Homo sapiens: one gene and its partner. The protein of the gene in region 2 purifies or fractionates together with the protein of the main gene of each other region. This does not show direct contact. Each region holds a gene or a part of one and is shown on either strand. Other genes may lie near its edges.

The links.
Region 1: the proteins of PFKFB3 (region 2) and CLUH purify together in Homo sapiens (affinity purification with mass spectrometry; 2 studies listed by BioGRID and IntAct, with this or other methods). This does not show direct contact.

What each region holds. Positions count from the first base shown.
Region 1 is NC_000017.11:2,688,343-2,695,186, forward strand, and holds the end of CLUH (clustered mitochondria protein homolog), read right to left. Parts: intron 6,760-6,844; coding exon 6,515-6,759; intron 6,223-6,514; coding exon 6,138-6,222; intron 5,935-6,137; coding exon 5,781-5,934; intron 5,698-5,780; coding exon 5,558-5,697; intron 4,578-5,557; exon of another isoform or gene 4,519-4,577; coding exon 4,438-4,518; intron 4,355-4,437; coding exon 4,229-4,354; intron 4,141-4,228; coding exon 4,019-4,140; intron 3,756-4,018; coding exon 3,662-3,755; intron 3,554-3,661; coding exon 3,419-3,553; intron 3,341-3,418; coding exon 3,267-3,340; intron 2,436-3,266; coding exon 2,252-2,435; 3' UTR 1,045-2,251; downstream 1-1,044. UniProt on the Homo sapiens protein: mRNA-binding protein involved in proper cytoplasmic distribution of mitochondria.
Region 2 is NC_000010.11:6,226,673-6,234,638, reverse strand, and holds part of PFKFB3 (6-phosphofructo-2-kinase/fructose-2,6-bisphosphatase 3), read right to left. Parts: intron 6,444-7,966; coding exon of another isoform or gene 6,421-6,443; intron 1,745-6,420; coding exon 1,697-1,744; 3' UTR 1-1,696. UniProt on the Homo sapiens protein: Catalyzes both the synthesis and degradation of fructose 2,6-bisphosphate.

The DNA of each region.
Region 1 (6,844 bases), on a different chromosome or scaffold from region 2:
AACAGCCCCTTGTCATTTGGGTCGTCAAAAGATGTCTGAGGGCACTAATACGCTTAAAGGATCAGCCAGGAAATAGGGGCCTCTCAGGTGACAAGGAGGCACAACCCTAACCAACCCCGATCTGTTCTCAGCTTCACAGGAGGCCCTGTTTTGAGAGGTGCATGAACATGTGGCTCACGTTCAACAACAAACACTCAGGAGAGGGGACAGAATGTTCAGGACACACCGGTGAGAGCAAAGGAAGCTGCTGCTGGGCTGGGGCTGCTGGGAAGTCTGAGAGGTTCTGTAGCAGGACACTCACTCGCTGGTGGCTGTCCCCGGGTGTCACCTAAAACCGCCAGGTCAGAAGCACCTTTTCTCCGGTTGGCTCAGGAAAACTGACAGACTCAGGGATGGAATTTTTTTCTTTTCAGAATTTCCAAGACGTACAGATCTCTCCAAGCATCCCAAAAGGCGTATGTTCCTGGTGGGGCCGAGGGCCTGCTCTTGGAGACAGATGGCGAGCAGCGGTCAGCAGCTACTGAGAGCTCAACTTCCCCTCTAGAGACAGGCTCTGCCGCTCAAGTCCACCTGGGTCTTGGCTCTCTGAATCCTGTCCGAGGGTGGCGAACTTGAGGCCCTCCTCCCTGCCCCCAGTGTCTCACCTCTGGGCAGTGCTGCCCACCCTCCTTCCTACCTCGAGTGAAGAGACAGGGGCAGGTGGCCAGCCAGGGGGGTGTTCAGTGACCTCACGGGTCCAGCATGCACAGGGCCTGGCCCCACAGCCCAGCACCCCTCCCCACCTGGCCTTCACAGTTTCTTCTGCACCTGGTGACAGGTGACATTCACCTGCACGACACTCCCGCGAACCTGGTGACGGACTGGCAGCTCGGTGAATTCCAGCTGAGTGCCTGTGATTCCACCCCCTTACCTCCCACTCAAGTGACAATGTAAGCGTGACCTCGAACTTGACCTCGTTTGTATCTATTCCTCTCCCAGTCACATTCCTGTCAGCCCTCACCATCCACCCAGACCGGGTTACAGAACACACAGGTGAGCCTGGGGCCGCAGGTTTCAAAAACTCACTTTATTCCAATGTGAAATGAGGACGTGATGGTTTAAAAACAAGAAAAAGTTCTTGCTCAGCGGTGGGGATGCTCTGCTTGCCCGCTCACGCCCATCCCCCTTGAAACAAGGTGTCTGGACGGACCACACCCATAAGCGGCTCTCCGCAAACCCAGGCAGACGCCCGTCTCCTCCGGGTCTCAGGGTGGCCACATCCTCCCCCACCAGGGCTCTGACAGCAGGCACAGAGCAGCAGCACGGGCAGGGTGGAGCGGGAGCAGCGTGTGGGGGCCCCCGCCACCCCCAGAGCTAGTCTCAGACCAGGAAGGGAGCTGGGCACCAGAGAAGCGACATCACGTCGGCACCTGTAACTCCCGGGATCCGTAATTGGGCCCCGCTTCCCCCAGCCTCGCCCCCGGCCCACTGTGCGTTCGGCAGCTCAGGTTAAAACTGAGGGGAGGGATACATTCAGACCGCAGGCCCCAAGGCTGCGCCCAGCTGGGTGCAGGGAGTAGGGAGCCGAGTCAGAGCCACCCACTGGGCTCTGAGGGCCCAGCAAGCCAACCCCGACCCCTCCGTTCGGGAGCAGCAGCCAGACCACGCCAGTCACAACGGCGGCTCCCGTCCCGCCCCAAACTAAAGTGCACCCCAGCCCTCCAGCCCCGCCACAGAGCTCCGGCTCCCCACCCCTCCCCACCGGGTTTTTCGGCCTAAACCCTGAACTTTCAGACAGGCTGGGCCCGGGGGTGGTGGCAGCCAAAGCAGCAGCCATCATGTCGACCATACAAATGACCTGAGAAATCCCGTCTGCGCGTCACCCACTCAGGAGTCACCCACTCAGGACTGGCTCGGGCTATGTACAGGGGAGAGGAACGGTCAACACTCACAGCCAGGGGCGCACTCGCACACGCCGGCCGGACGGCGGGGGCCGAAGCAACACCTGCCCCCCAGCCGGGAACTGATGGCCGCACACGCCATTCACGTGTCTCCAATGGGGCCTCTGCATCATCTATTCATTGAACCAGCGCAAAAACACCTTCTGCGGGGCAGGCAGGCCAGGCTCCCAGGAGGACACGGGGGTGGGGTGGGGTGAGACGTGGAGGAAGAGGGCCTTGCTTCCTCTTCCGCCCGCAGGCTCGCCCCCTTCTCCCGCAGTCGGGCTCCCTGGTGACGGGGCCGCTGGCTGGCTGTCCGTCTGGCTCCCTCTCTATCCCTGCACGCTCGGAGAAGGGTCCTTGGCAGCCGGGGGCTGGGAGCCCAGGTCTCCTGGGGCCCCCGCTGGCGCGGGCTCGGTAGCCATGGGCTCCTCGGCTCTATCCCTGTTTCTGCTGGCCTCCTGGAGCTGGTGCCGCCGCGCCACCTCGGCTTTCAGATTCTCCAGGTCTTTTTGGCTGAGGATAAGGGTGGGGATGGAGGTGGCTCTCAGAGGAGTCCTGGGGGCTCCACCCGCCTCCCGGCTTTCCTGTGGGATAAGCTCAGGCTCTGCGCTCTATTCAGTGGGGAATGTGTGTGAACAAGCGCTTCCCTCCTGAAGGCGGAAGGTCCCTGAACACGGAGAAGGTAAGGACCCCGCACCTGACCCGGCCTCGGGGCTCCCCTCGCTGCCCTCGGTGGCCTCCCTCCAGCGCAGGGGGAGGAAAGCGGAGTTGGGGGGCTGCTGCCACGCCTTGCTGACCAAATCCACTCCCCACAGGAGGCCACACTGCTTGTGGCCACCCCGGGGAGCCCGGGGCCTGCTCCTCAGCCCCCCCCCGCCGCAGGATGGGAAGCGTGGGGAGGGAATGAAGCCGCTTCTTAGGGACTGGTGGGAAAACGCCAAGATACTTTGTGTGAAGCAGAAACACCAAGGTCTTCACTCGCGGAATGCGAGGATGCTGGGGAAGATAAGCGGGGCGGGCCGGGCGCGATGGCTCACGCCTGGAATCCCAGCACTCTGAGAGGCCGAGGCGGGCGGATCGCAAGGTTAAGAGTTCGAGACCAGCCTGGTCAACGTGGTGAAACCCCATCTCTACTACAAACACAAAAATGAGCCGGGCGAGGTGGCGGACACCTGTAATCCCAGCTACTGGGGAGGCTGAGGCAGGAGAATCGCTGAACCCGGGAGGCGGAGGCTGCAGTGAGCCGGGATGGCGCCGCCGCACTCCAGCCCGGGTGACAGGGCGAGACTCCGACTCACAAAAAACCCCCAACCGGGAGACACTCGAGTGGGGCGGAGGCCTCACCTGAGAGGAATGAAGAGGATGCCGTTAATGACGTTCAGCTGCTCCAAGACGCTGGCCATGCTGGGGGCCGTGAACTGCGGGGCGGGGAAACCAGCGGTGAGCGGGGCTCCCGCGCTCGCCGGGCCGGAGGGGCCGCTCCGCCCCGGACTCACCTTGAGGGGCGGGATGTTGGCGCTGGAGCCGTTGCGGTAGATCTCGTTCATGGTGCGCTGCAGGGCCACGGCCTGCTGGGTCAGGCACTTGAGGTACTCGGAGCTTTCCTTGGTCTTCTCATGGTCCTCGCCCAGCTGCGGGGAGGCGGGAAGGGATCAGGCCCCCCCGTGCCCCCGCGGCCCCGCCCCCGCCCCGCCACGCCCCCGCCCCGCCCCCGCCCCCGCCACGCCCCCGCCGCGCACCTGCGTCTTGTAGATGGTGTAACCCTCCTTCTCGTGCTGCAGGGCCGACCGGAACTCAGCTTTGCTCTCGTAGACTCGGGCGACAAGGTGGTGGCTGCCGGGAGGCGCGGCGCGGGGCGAGGGAAGGGCATAAGTGGGCTGGGTGTGGGGGCCTGACTCGGGGGCCCGGGGTCTCCCGTAGATCCCTCCCTGGAAGCCACCGAGGGGAACAGCAAGTCCAGGGCTCAGGGAAGAGGGGGAGGTCGAGAGAAATTTTCTCGGGTGGAGGAAGACAGGAGCACTGGGTCTCTTCCCCGCCCCCGCCGGCTGCCCCGCAGGCCTCCGCCGGCCTTGGCGTTTGGACGGGCGGCCCCTCACCTGAGGGCCACCTTGAGGGCCTTGGGCCCGTGGTACTTGGTGCTGACGGCCAGCGCGTTCTCCAGGAAGCGCAGCGACAGGTCGTACTCCATCACCCCGTGCAGCACCAGCCCGATGTTGTTCTGGGGGCAGGCGGTGGGGGGCCCTGGTCAGCTCCCGGTCCCCTGGGATGGAGCTGGGTCCCTGCCGCCCCCCCGCCCCAGCACTCACGTCCAGCAGCGCCATCTCGGGGTGGTCTTCCCCGAACACCAGCAGCATGAGGTAGCGGGCGCGGTACAGCAGGCTCAGGGCGGTGGACAGCTGGCTGCTGGCGAAGCAGTACAGGGCCAGGTGCATCTGCGGGCGGGGCGGAGACAGGTCAGGGTGGCCGCGGACCCAGCCCCTCGCATCCCCCGGCGCGGGCGGCACTCGCGACTCACGTATTCCTGGATGGTGTTGGGGTGCTCGGTGCCCATCACCCGCTCGCTCATCAGCACCGCCTTCTGCTGGTTACTCAGGGCCTGGGGAGAGACAGTGGTGGTTGCCGCGGCGTGGGAACCCCCACTGCACCCAGAGCCCGCCTGGCCCCGGCCCAGCAGCCCACGGTGCCGCTCTGCAGGCTCCTGTCCCCTCCGGCTGCGCCCAGCACAGTGCAGCAGGGGGGAGGGGGATCAGCAGCAGCTGCTGCCACACCTTGAAGGGCAGGTCACGCTCCACAGAGAGCTCCACACACCCATGTCTTACACCCAACAAAATCTCCACAAACACCCAAATACAAACCTAAAACTACTAAAAATGTTACAAAAAAAAAAAAAAAGCCTGAGCAGGGGTGGGTCCCTTGAGGTCAGGAGTTTGAGACCATCCTGGCCAACATGATGAAACCCCATCTCTACTAAAAATACAAAAATTAGCTGGGTGTGCTGGCTCACGCCTGTAATCCCAGCTACTCGGGAGGCTGAGGTGGGAGAATCGCTTGAGCCCAGGAGGTTGAGGCTGCAGGGAGTCGATATCACGCCACTACACTCCAGCCTGGGTGACAAAGCAAGACCCTGTCTCAGAAACAAACAAACAAACAAACAACCCACCCATTTATAAACAGAAGAAAAAACAGTCCCTTTGCAGGGAGTAGGGATCCTAAGACATGCTAACCCTGAAACAGCCCTGGCCAGGCAGGGCACCCAGAACCCCACCACAGCCTCCACCAGCCCCGGCCAGGCAGGGCACCCAGAACCCCACAGCCTGCACTGGGCACAGAGGACGTGGGAGCTCGGTGGCATGCTTCCTGCCCACTCACGGAGTCTCAGGAGGCGTCCTTGCTGACGCCCTGTGGGGGGGTCCCCTGCCATCGCCTCCCAGAACTGACCTCACCGCAGCACAGGGTGCTCCTGAGCTCTCCCGCTCGGGACACAGTTACAGAGGGGTGGAGCCAGGGGTGGCCTGGGCAGAACCAGCGACTTCCTGGGGTCTCCCTGGACTCCACCCACTCCTCCGTCAGGGGCCCCCTCACTCCCCATCCCCCAACACGAGGCCAGGCCTTTGCTGCCACAGCCCAGAGGGTACCTCTGCGTAGTCGCCCATGATGTAGTGGAGGCGGGCGAGGAGGCGCAGGCAGGCGCAGGTCTCCACGTGCATGGCTCCGTAGACGTTGTTAAACAGGTTCAGGGCCTCATTGATGAGCTCACAGCCCTCCTTCAGGAAGCCTGCAGGGCACCCCCAGGGGTGGCAAGGTCAGGACGGGCCATGGGGAACCCCCACCTCCACCCAGCCCCACCTGGCCACACACCCTGCTGCACTTTGGCCTGCCCGCTCTGGAAGAAATGGAAGGCATCCGAGGCCTTGGGGTTGACGTGCTTGACCACGGGGAAGATGTTGAGCACGTCCTCCTCGGTGAACGCGGGCTTGTGGCGACTGTCGAAGCTGTACTCCTTCAGCAGGACCTGGGGGGCAGCCCCCCCACCACAGGAAGCCTCAGGCCCAGGTTCAGCGGGTTGGCACCTCCCAACCCACCAACGCTTGCGCACAGACGGCTACCGTGAAAAAGCCACTTCCCCTGTGGCCCTGGCCAGGAGTGGGAGCCTGCAGCAGGGACGCAGCGGGGACACAGCGGGGACACAGCGGGGATGCTGTGAGCCATGCCCACCTGGATCCCTGTTTTCAGCGAGATCTCCCGCAGGAGCGTTATCTTCTGCAGGCCGTAGGTCTCCACAGCCTGGTCCACGGTCTCACTGAGGAGGGAGCAGGGGGCCTGAGCAGCCCAAGCACCGCCGGGCCCCCCCAACACCGCCCCACCCAGCTCCCCAACGCTGTCCAGCCCGGGCCCCCAACACTGCCCCACCCGGCCCCCGGGAGCCTCCCGGCTGCCCTCACCCTCCAGCACCCAGTGATCTCCACAGCTGCTCCCTCTTCTCTCTGACTCCCTGGCCTATGACCACAGGCCTTAGACGCCATCTGGGAGCAGGTGGTGGCCGCCTCATCTGCCCAATCCCACCCACCCCACCGCCCCTGCCCCGCACGCACCACTCGAGGTCGAAGTCAAAGTAGTTCTTGGCCTCCTGGCAGATGTTCTTCCAGAGCTCCTGGGGGGTCATGACAGCCCAGGCTGTGTTATCTGCAGCCCCCGGGGGCCGGTTTTTCCTCCTCTTATTCCGCTTCTTGGAGACCAGCTCGTCGGCGGGCAGGTGGGCCACGGGGTTTGGGTAGGAGCTCAGGAAGCAGTTCAGGAAGTGGCTGATGGCGGCTGAGAGGCCGGAGAGCTCGACTCCCTGCGAGGCAGGTTGGATCCGAGTCATGAGGGCCCTCAGCCCCACCTCAGGCTCTTTCCCGACGCCCCACACCACCCTGGGAGGC
Region 2 (7,966 bases):
TATTCTGATGAGACTCAACATCCAGGGAGAGAGAGAAAACTGCGCGAGCCTGGAGCTGCACGGGAATGCGGACAGAGACATCCTCTCCAGCAGACGCCAGCCAAAGTGGGTGCAACGGGCGGGGAGGGCTTGAATGGTTCAGCATGAAAATCCCCCACTTGATTGTACCATACCTGAAGCACAGCCTCAGTTCCTACTCAATTCCAACCAGGAAAAAAACATGCATTCTTTAAAAGCTCTTCCCAAAAAACAAACAGCAACGGCTCTTCTCTCCACGCCCAGTTTCAGGTGTCTAAATCTCCCACCCTCACCCAGGACCTGTCCCTTGAGCTGGGAGGAGGATCTCAGGGCTCACAGCAGAAGGCAGGAAAGAAAAGTGACCTTTGGCACAAGCTTTGAGACATCCTGAAAAGGGTCATTTGGACAAACTCTGCTGCCGAGTTTCCAAATGGTTTCATCTGGGCACGAGACCCCCCGTCCCACCTACCCCAGGGTTTGAGGCAATGAGGAGAAACCAACAGGCTGAGACGACAGGTCCCATGCTTTCCATCACCACAAAAGTGTCATAGACGCCATGAAGGGAAGGCCAGGACAAAGTCCACTCTTCCGACCTTCCCAAGGCACCGGCAGAGTGCCAGGCACAAGGCAGATGCTCCAAGACAGTGTGCAGGCAGCTCTTGAAGAAGTGGCTGCGAGTGAGGCCTTGCTTGGGCCACTGTCCCCACCTGGGAAGAGCAGGGACGGTAATGCAAGTGCTGGGGAAGGATGCCAGGTGTTCCGCTCCCCACCTTCAGAGGTTCCAAGCCCCCCAGGGCAAGACACCCCAACATCTACGTTCCTGAAGAGAAGGTGGGACTCTCAGGTCACACTTCTGCCATCAAAAAAGTGCAAAAGCCAGCAGCTCCAGGAAAGTGTTTCTCAGTTCCCCCCAAGTCCAGGTGGGAGGAGAGAGGGGCCCTGGAGCTCCCTGGGAGCAGGAGGCCCCAGTTCTCATATTTCGGCAAAATACTTCCCTCTCCCCGTGCAGCCAGCCTGCCCTTGCACATCTTTGGAGGCAGGCCACAGGCCTGGAAGGTGTGTGGACCTGCAGGAGAGCCAGGGTGCGGACCACCCAGCCAACTTGCGTCTCAGCTCAGGGACTTCCTGCAGAAGAGGCCTCAACCCAACACCTGTCCAAGTTCGTTCCCATGAGGCGTCTTCCCAGGTCAAGATGCACCAAACAGTCACGTGGAGGTTTTACACATTCCTTAACTTTCAGCAACTAGGAGCCTGCCTCCTTTAATTTTAGGATTCTGCCACCAGTGTGGTCTTCCCAGCTCCAAACGTGCCGGGAGATCACAGAAACGAAACAAAACAGCACAGTGTCCCCAGCGGCCTCCTGTCAGGACCAGCACTCATCACCCTCCCAAGGCTTTGTGAAGGTCTCCGAGGCTGGACATTCCTAGGAAACCCAGAGAGTGGAGGTGGGGGCCCCACGGCTAAAGGCAGGGCGCCAGGGACCCACGTGGCTTTCTGGTGTCCAGCGGCCGAGGGGACACAGACGGTGCCAAGCATGGTTCTCTTCGGCCAAGGCTCCCCCGCTGCTCCACCCCACCCTCTCCGGAAGAAGTCCTCAGGATACGTTTTGCCTCGGGCGGAGGGCAGGACACAAGCTAAGCTGCAGAAATGGAAATGGAATGGAACCGACACGTCTGCCTCAGTGTTTCCTGGAGGAGTCAGCGCTGCTCCGGGAGCCTTTCATGTTCTGTTTTCAGGAGAAAAGAGAGGTGGGGAGGGAGTTAGGATTTGTAGCTGGCTGAATTCTAAAGCAGAAGACGCGAGCCATGCAACGGAGAATTCTTCCCTCCCTCCATCCCAGACAAAGAACATGATCCAAGAAAGGTGCTGCCAACCTCACAGGCGGGAGAGAGCCCAGGTGGGCCTCAGAACATGACGCAAGATAACCCCAGAGTCTCAGAGAAGGGGCTGGGCACCAGGCCTGGAGCCCGCCTGGTGGGGGCCGTGTGGCTCCTGGAGGACCGTGAGCTGCGCGGCGCTGGGCACCAGTAACTACAGGAGCCTCATGCTCACGACCCCATAGAAATCCCACAAACCACAGCCAGGCAGAGGATGAGCCCGGGGCCTCCAAGGACACACAGGGCCCCTCCTCTCGACTCAGCTCAAAACAGAGCCACACTCCCAGCTCCTGCATCCAGATTCTGGGAACAGAGCTTGACAGGCAGAACACAGGTGATACATGGAATGGCTGGACGTGGTGGGGAGGCCCAGGTGGGGAGCCAGGCAGAGGGGTGTTGTTAAAGCCCTGCCCCACTTCTGATCACAGTGGCCCTCGCAGGGAGTTCCACCCCTAAGGCACTGGCCAGTACCAAACCCCCCCGCCACCCACCCCCCGCAAAAAAACATGCTCCAAAATCAGCGAGGAACACAACTGACTGCAGCCACTGCACAGCGGGCCTCCTTCCGTGACCTGCTTCACCTACGCCTCAAAAAACAAGAAAACACACAATGTTTAAAACTATTCTCTCCAGTCCTGAGTGTCTCCACCTGGACTGCTCTAAAGAGGGTGGGAGAGAGCCCAGGCACACAGGGCCACCGTGGCCCATGCCCACCCCACACAGAACTGGGGGTCCAAGGCTGGAGCCATCCACAGGGAGGAAAGTCACGGGGCTGGGCAGCATCAGAGCTATCGCCCAGGCGTGGGCCAGACTCAGGAACCCAGGTGATGGGTGCCCACCGGGAGGTGATGGGTGCCCGCCGAGAGGTGATGGGTGCCCGCCAGGAGGTGATGGGTGCCCACCGGGAGGTGATGAGTGCCCACCAGGAGGTGATAGGTGCCTGCCAGGGGATGACGGCTGCCTGCGGGGGTTGATGGGTGCCCGCCGAAGGATGATGGAAGTGATGGGTGCCCACTGGGAGGGGGCAATTCTCTTCAGAGAGCCCTGGGTCCTCATATCTAGGGAGAGCCCCAGCCGGGCTGTGGGATCACAGAGCAGGGCTGACATTTCCCTCCGCATCTGCTGGCTCCAACCTGTCCTCAACACCACCAGCCCACAGCTTCCGGCACCCACAGGTGATGGCGATGCAACAATAACAGTGGAGAGCCTGCAAGACCGGGTGATGTCCACGTCCTTCACCCAGGGGCCCCAGCTCAGGACACGTGGGGGGTGAGAGACAGACTAGAAAGGACCTCACGACAATGGTGTTGCACTTAACAACCTCGGCATGGAGACAGATGAGCCCCGCATTGCACGATGGCCAGTCTGCACACAGACCCAGATGCCGTGACGCGGTGCGGGACAGAGGGACATGCACCCAGGCATTTACCTTCCACAGTTAGTAAGGAGAAAACTTTGAGAAAATGTGACAGACAGTTCGTCTTTCAAGCAGAGTGGGGGAGAGGAAGAAACAGGTTGGAAAAGGAAAAAAAAAAAGAAAATCTTTAGTAGGATTTTCTAGTGTGCATTTGAAATTTTAAAAATGAAGGTTGCATCACAAATGCCAGGTGATCTCTCGATCCCAAGCAGCCGGCACAGCCCCCAGGAAGGCACCCCAGAGCACCAGGTCCGGACAGTTGTTCGTCCCCATCTTACTGGGAAACCAAGATCACAGGGGTGAAGACTCTAGGCTGGGCGTGGTGGCTCACATCTGTAATCCCAGCACTTTGGGAGGCCAAGGCGGGTGGATCACCTGAGGTCAGGAGTTTGAGACGAGCCTGGCCAACATGGTGAAACCCCATCTCTACTAAAAATACAAACATTAGCCGGGCATGGTGGCGGGCGCCTGTAATCCCAGCTACTCGGGAGGTTGAGGCAGGAGAATCGCTTGAACCCGGGAGAAGGAGGTTGCAGTGAGCCAAGATCGCGCCACTGCACTCCAGCCTGGGCAACAAGAGCAGAATTCCATCTCAAAAAAAAAAAAAGACTTCAGGCCATGGCCTTGAGACCCCAGGGATTTCCCCTCCCCAAGTCTGGGTGTTCCTGCTGCCCCAGAGAAGAAATCCCTCAGGTTACAGGAGGGTATCCAAAGGCTGACCCAATGCCAGCAAGCCCAGAAGTCTCCACAGGCCCAGGGCACCAAGTTCCTCCCTGATAACAACAGCAGCCGTCATCCCCCACGCACTTCCTAGGGGCCAGATATTGTGCTAAGTGCTGTATCTATAGTCTCATTATGACAACTTTATGAAGTTATTATCTCCATATTACAGATGAGGAAGCTGAGGTCCTAGAATTGCTTTAACTTGCCCAGAGTGCCAAGGATAGAGGCCAGGAGGAGTAGAACCAAGATGCAGGCCTGGCTTGGTCTGACTTTCATCATAAATTCTGGTCACAGAGCCCAGGTGGACTCCTAGAATCAGATGTGGCTACAATCCTAGATGTGGGGTCACGCACCCAGGATGGACGGGACAATGGGACTCCAGAGTGAAATTCCAACCTGAGTCAGGTGTGATGGGTCCATCGGATGTATTTTTGCTGAACAGGAGGGATTCTAGCAAACGCACTATTATGTTCATCTTGGAGATAGGTAAGATCAGCTTTAGCGGGTGGGGGACTATCCCCGAATGGCTCCTCCCAGTAGAAAGATTTCTTTCCTGGCAACATGAGGCCACGTGTCTAACGCAGGGGTCCCTAACCCCTGGGCTGTGGACCAGTACCCAGTCCATAGCCCACTGAGAGGCGGGCCACACAGCAGGAGGTGGGTGGTGGGTGGGCCAACATTACCACCTGACTCGGAGGAGCACACACGAGGGATCTAGGCTGTGCGTTCCCTTCAGAGAATCTAATGCCAGACGATCTGAGGCAGAACAGTTTTATCCCCAAACCATCCCCTACCCTGCCATGGTGGGGAAAATTCTCTTCCACGAAACGGGTCCCTGGTACCAAAAAGGTCGGGGACTGCTGGTCTAAAGGATCAGGACATGCACAGATGTAAAACCTTCAGGCTCCAAGTCCAAAAAGTTTCACACAAGGAGAAGCCCAGATCCTGAAGCACTGCACGCTGGCCCCGCGCATCACAGACACTGGCCCTGAGGATGGAGGGTGCGCCCCAAGAAGCTGGAAGTTAAGGGCAGGCCCACCTTAGGTAAGCAAAGCCTGGCTGTGGGAAGCAGCTGCAAGGGGGTGGCTGTGGGGGTACACGAGGGTCCAACAGCTGCCCATGCCTTGCGGGTCACAGGGCAGGGGCCTCAGGACAGCAGCAGGGAACGGGCACCCAGCCCACTCCCAGAAGCCGCAGAGAGGAGGCGGCCGGCTTTCTGAAGCAAGGGGCCTTTCAGGCCCCGGCTCTGCGGCTCACCTGCTGGAAGCACGGGCCGGTCACTCAGCCCCTCAACCATTAAACGGGGGACTGACTGCCCTGCCGACCTCCCAGGGTGGTCTTAAGGAACGTGGACATGGAGGACACTGGTACATCCTCTGGCCCTTCACCCCTTTGCCACCAAAATCTGAGCGCCATGCCAAACCTCTCCCATTTCCAAAGCCAGTCATTCTTTTCAGCATCTCAGGCTGCATTCCTCATCACACCTTTCCAGTTTCTGCATAAAGTAGTTAAGGTAACTTAAGGAGCAAACAGGAAATAAAGGGGCGGGTGTGTTTTTGGGGGGGCAAGGGGATGACACTTCATGTGGCTGTCATTAAAGTTCTGTGGCAGGAAGGCCTCTGCTCCTGGTGGGGAAGGGATCCCAGAGCAGTGGGAACACAGCCCCAGCTACCCAGTGGCTGCCAGAGCTAAGGCTGAACCTGAAACTCTGCAGAGAGCTCTGGGAGGAGCAGAAGTGACCACATGGGTTAGAGATGGAGGCTGCACCCAGCCCCGGGCGTGACTATGACGCTGAGCAGGCTCCAACCCAGGACAAACGGATCCCCAAGGGTCTCCACTCGGAGCTCTTTTGGGGTGTGGGGGGTCCTCATGGGGAGGGAGAGGCTCAGAGCTCAGGCCCCACCACACTCCCACTATTCCCCATAGGTTTGGTTTACAGATTAGGCTCTGAGTAAGTTTTCCTTCCAAAACAAAGGACACTCCTGGGGCAGGAGGGGGCTTTAAGGCTAATGGCACCTGGCACAGATGCAGCTCGCCACCAAGATCTGATTCTGATAAGGAAATGTGGATTTATGCCGAGCCCTAAACCACGGCCATTACACACCACGACCTGCAGCCCTGAGAGGGTAGGGGAGAAGCCAGCGGTCGTGCGGCGGTGTCGGAACACACCCAACAGTAGTGCAGCCACCATGACCGCCTGCACGCTTTTCCAAAAACATTCAGGAATCTCTCCTCCCTACTCCTACGCCCATCTCCTCCTTCCCCCACGGAAGACCTCACATCACAAAACTGCTCTCATCCTCAATATTTTAACAGGCAGGAGGCCAAATGAGCAAGCAGGAAGAAAGCAGTGCAAGCAGCAGCGATGATCGGAGAGATACTTACAGACAGGCTTGCCCTAGCAAAGGCTGCGGAGGAGAAGCAGAGAGAGAAGTCAGTCAGGAGGCAGGGCGCAATCTGCAGGGACGAAGCCCTGAAAAACCCCACGCCGGCCCAGCCAGCAGCTTCAGACGTCCCTAAGAACCTGGCCACCCTGAAGGACTGTCCTCCCAACGCCAGGGGCAGCTCTGAAGCGGACAGGAGGATGCAGCCCCTGCCACTGCGTCCTCCACGACGGAGGTCTGTGCAGCTCAGGATATCAACCCCCTTCCCCAGCCTGGTCCCCCCAAGCATCAAAGCAGCGGCCTCTGAACTTCCAAATACAACTGCACATTTCCATCAGAACGGATGCCACAGGGACACCATTTCAGTTCTGCTGGCTTTTCATAAAAACCCTCAGATCTGAGACCTGCAAGGGAATATGTATGAGAGCTCTCCCAGTCCTGCTCCTATCATGTGCAAAGCTAAGGAGACTGAGGGCCTGGGAGGGGAAGGAACCTGGGCAATTAAATTGCTGCACTCATGTTAGTGTGGAGCTACCACCAAAGCCAGGCCTCCAGGCTTCCGCTAATCACAGCCACCTCACCGTGTCTACGCGTCCCCACCACATGCCCGACACTGGGCCTGATGCAGGGCATGAATCCCCTCATCTGATCTGACTTCTGCACTGCCATTATTCCCCCATTGCCTGGATGAAAAAACTGAGGCCTGGAGAGGTTAAGTGACCTGTGGAGGCTGCAGCATCTCCCAGGTCACATTCCAGACATCATGAGGTCTAAGGAAGTCTCGGAAAAGGCGGGAAGAGGTGGCAGGCTGAAAAGGATGCTCAGAGCCAGCACCAGCATCCGGCTCATCAACAAACCTGACCGGAAGCTGCACTGGGCTGATTTGTGGGGGCAGGCCTGGAGGGTGGAGGTAGGGCAGACCCTTGGGTGGTACCTGAATTTAAGCACAGAAATTCCTACATCTCACATATTTGCAAGGGTTCCAGGCTGTAAAGGAAAAGACCAGTTTTCTGAAAACAAACAGTTTTCTGAAAACAAATCTTAATGTCTGACAACCAAAATCTTCCAGGCCTGTAACCTTCAAAATTAATGAAATAAGTGAAATCGGGTTGGGGTTTTTTGCTTTTTTTTTTTGAGACGGAGTCTCCCTCTGTCACCCAGGCTGGAGTGCAGTGGCACCATCTCGGCTCACTGCAACCTCCGCCTCCTGGGTTCAAGCAATTCTCCTGCCTCAGCCTCCTGAGAAGCTGGGATTACAGGCGCCCGCCTCCACACCTGGCTAATTTCTGTATTTTTAGTAAAGACAGGGTTTCGCCATGTTGGCCAGGCTGGTCTGGAACTCTTGTCCTCAGGTGATCCGCCCACCTCGGCCTCCCAAAGCGCTGGGATTACAGGCGTGAGCCACCGCGCCTGGCCTTGTTTGTTAGGTTTTTTACTACCTGCTGGGATAACCATGTTATTTATGTGAGAAAGTAGCCACTTTCTTTGTTTTAGAAATAACCATTCACGAACGTGAACGGGTCTTGGACATCTCACTCTTCCTTCTG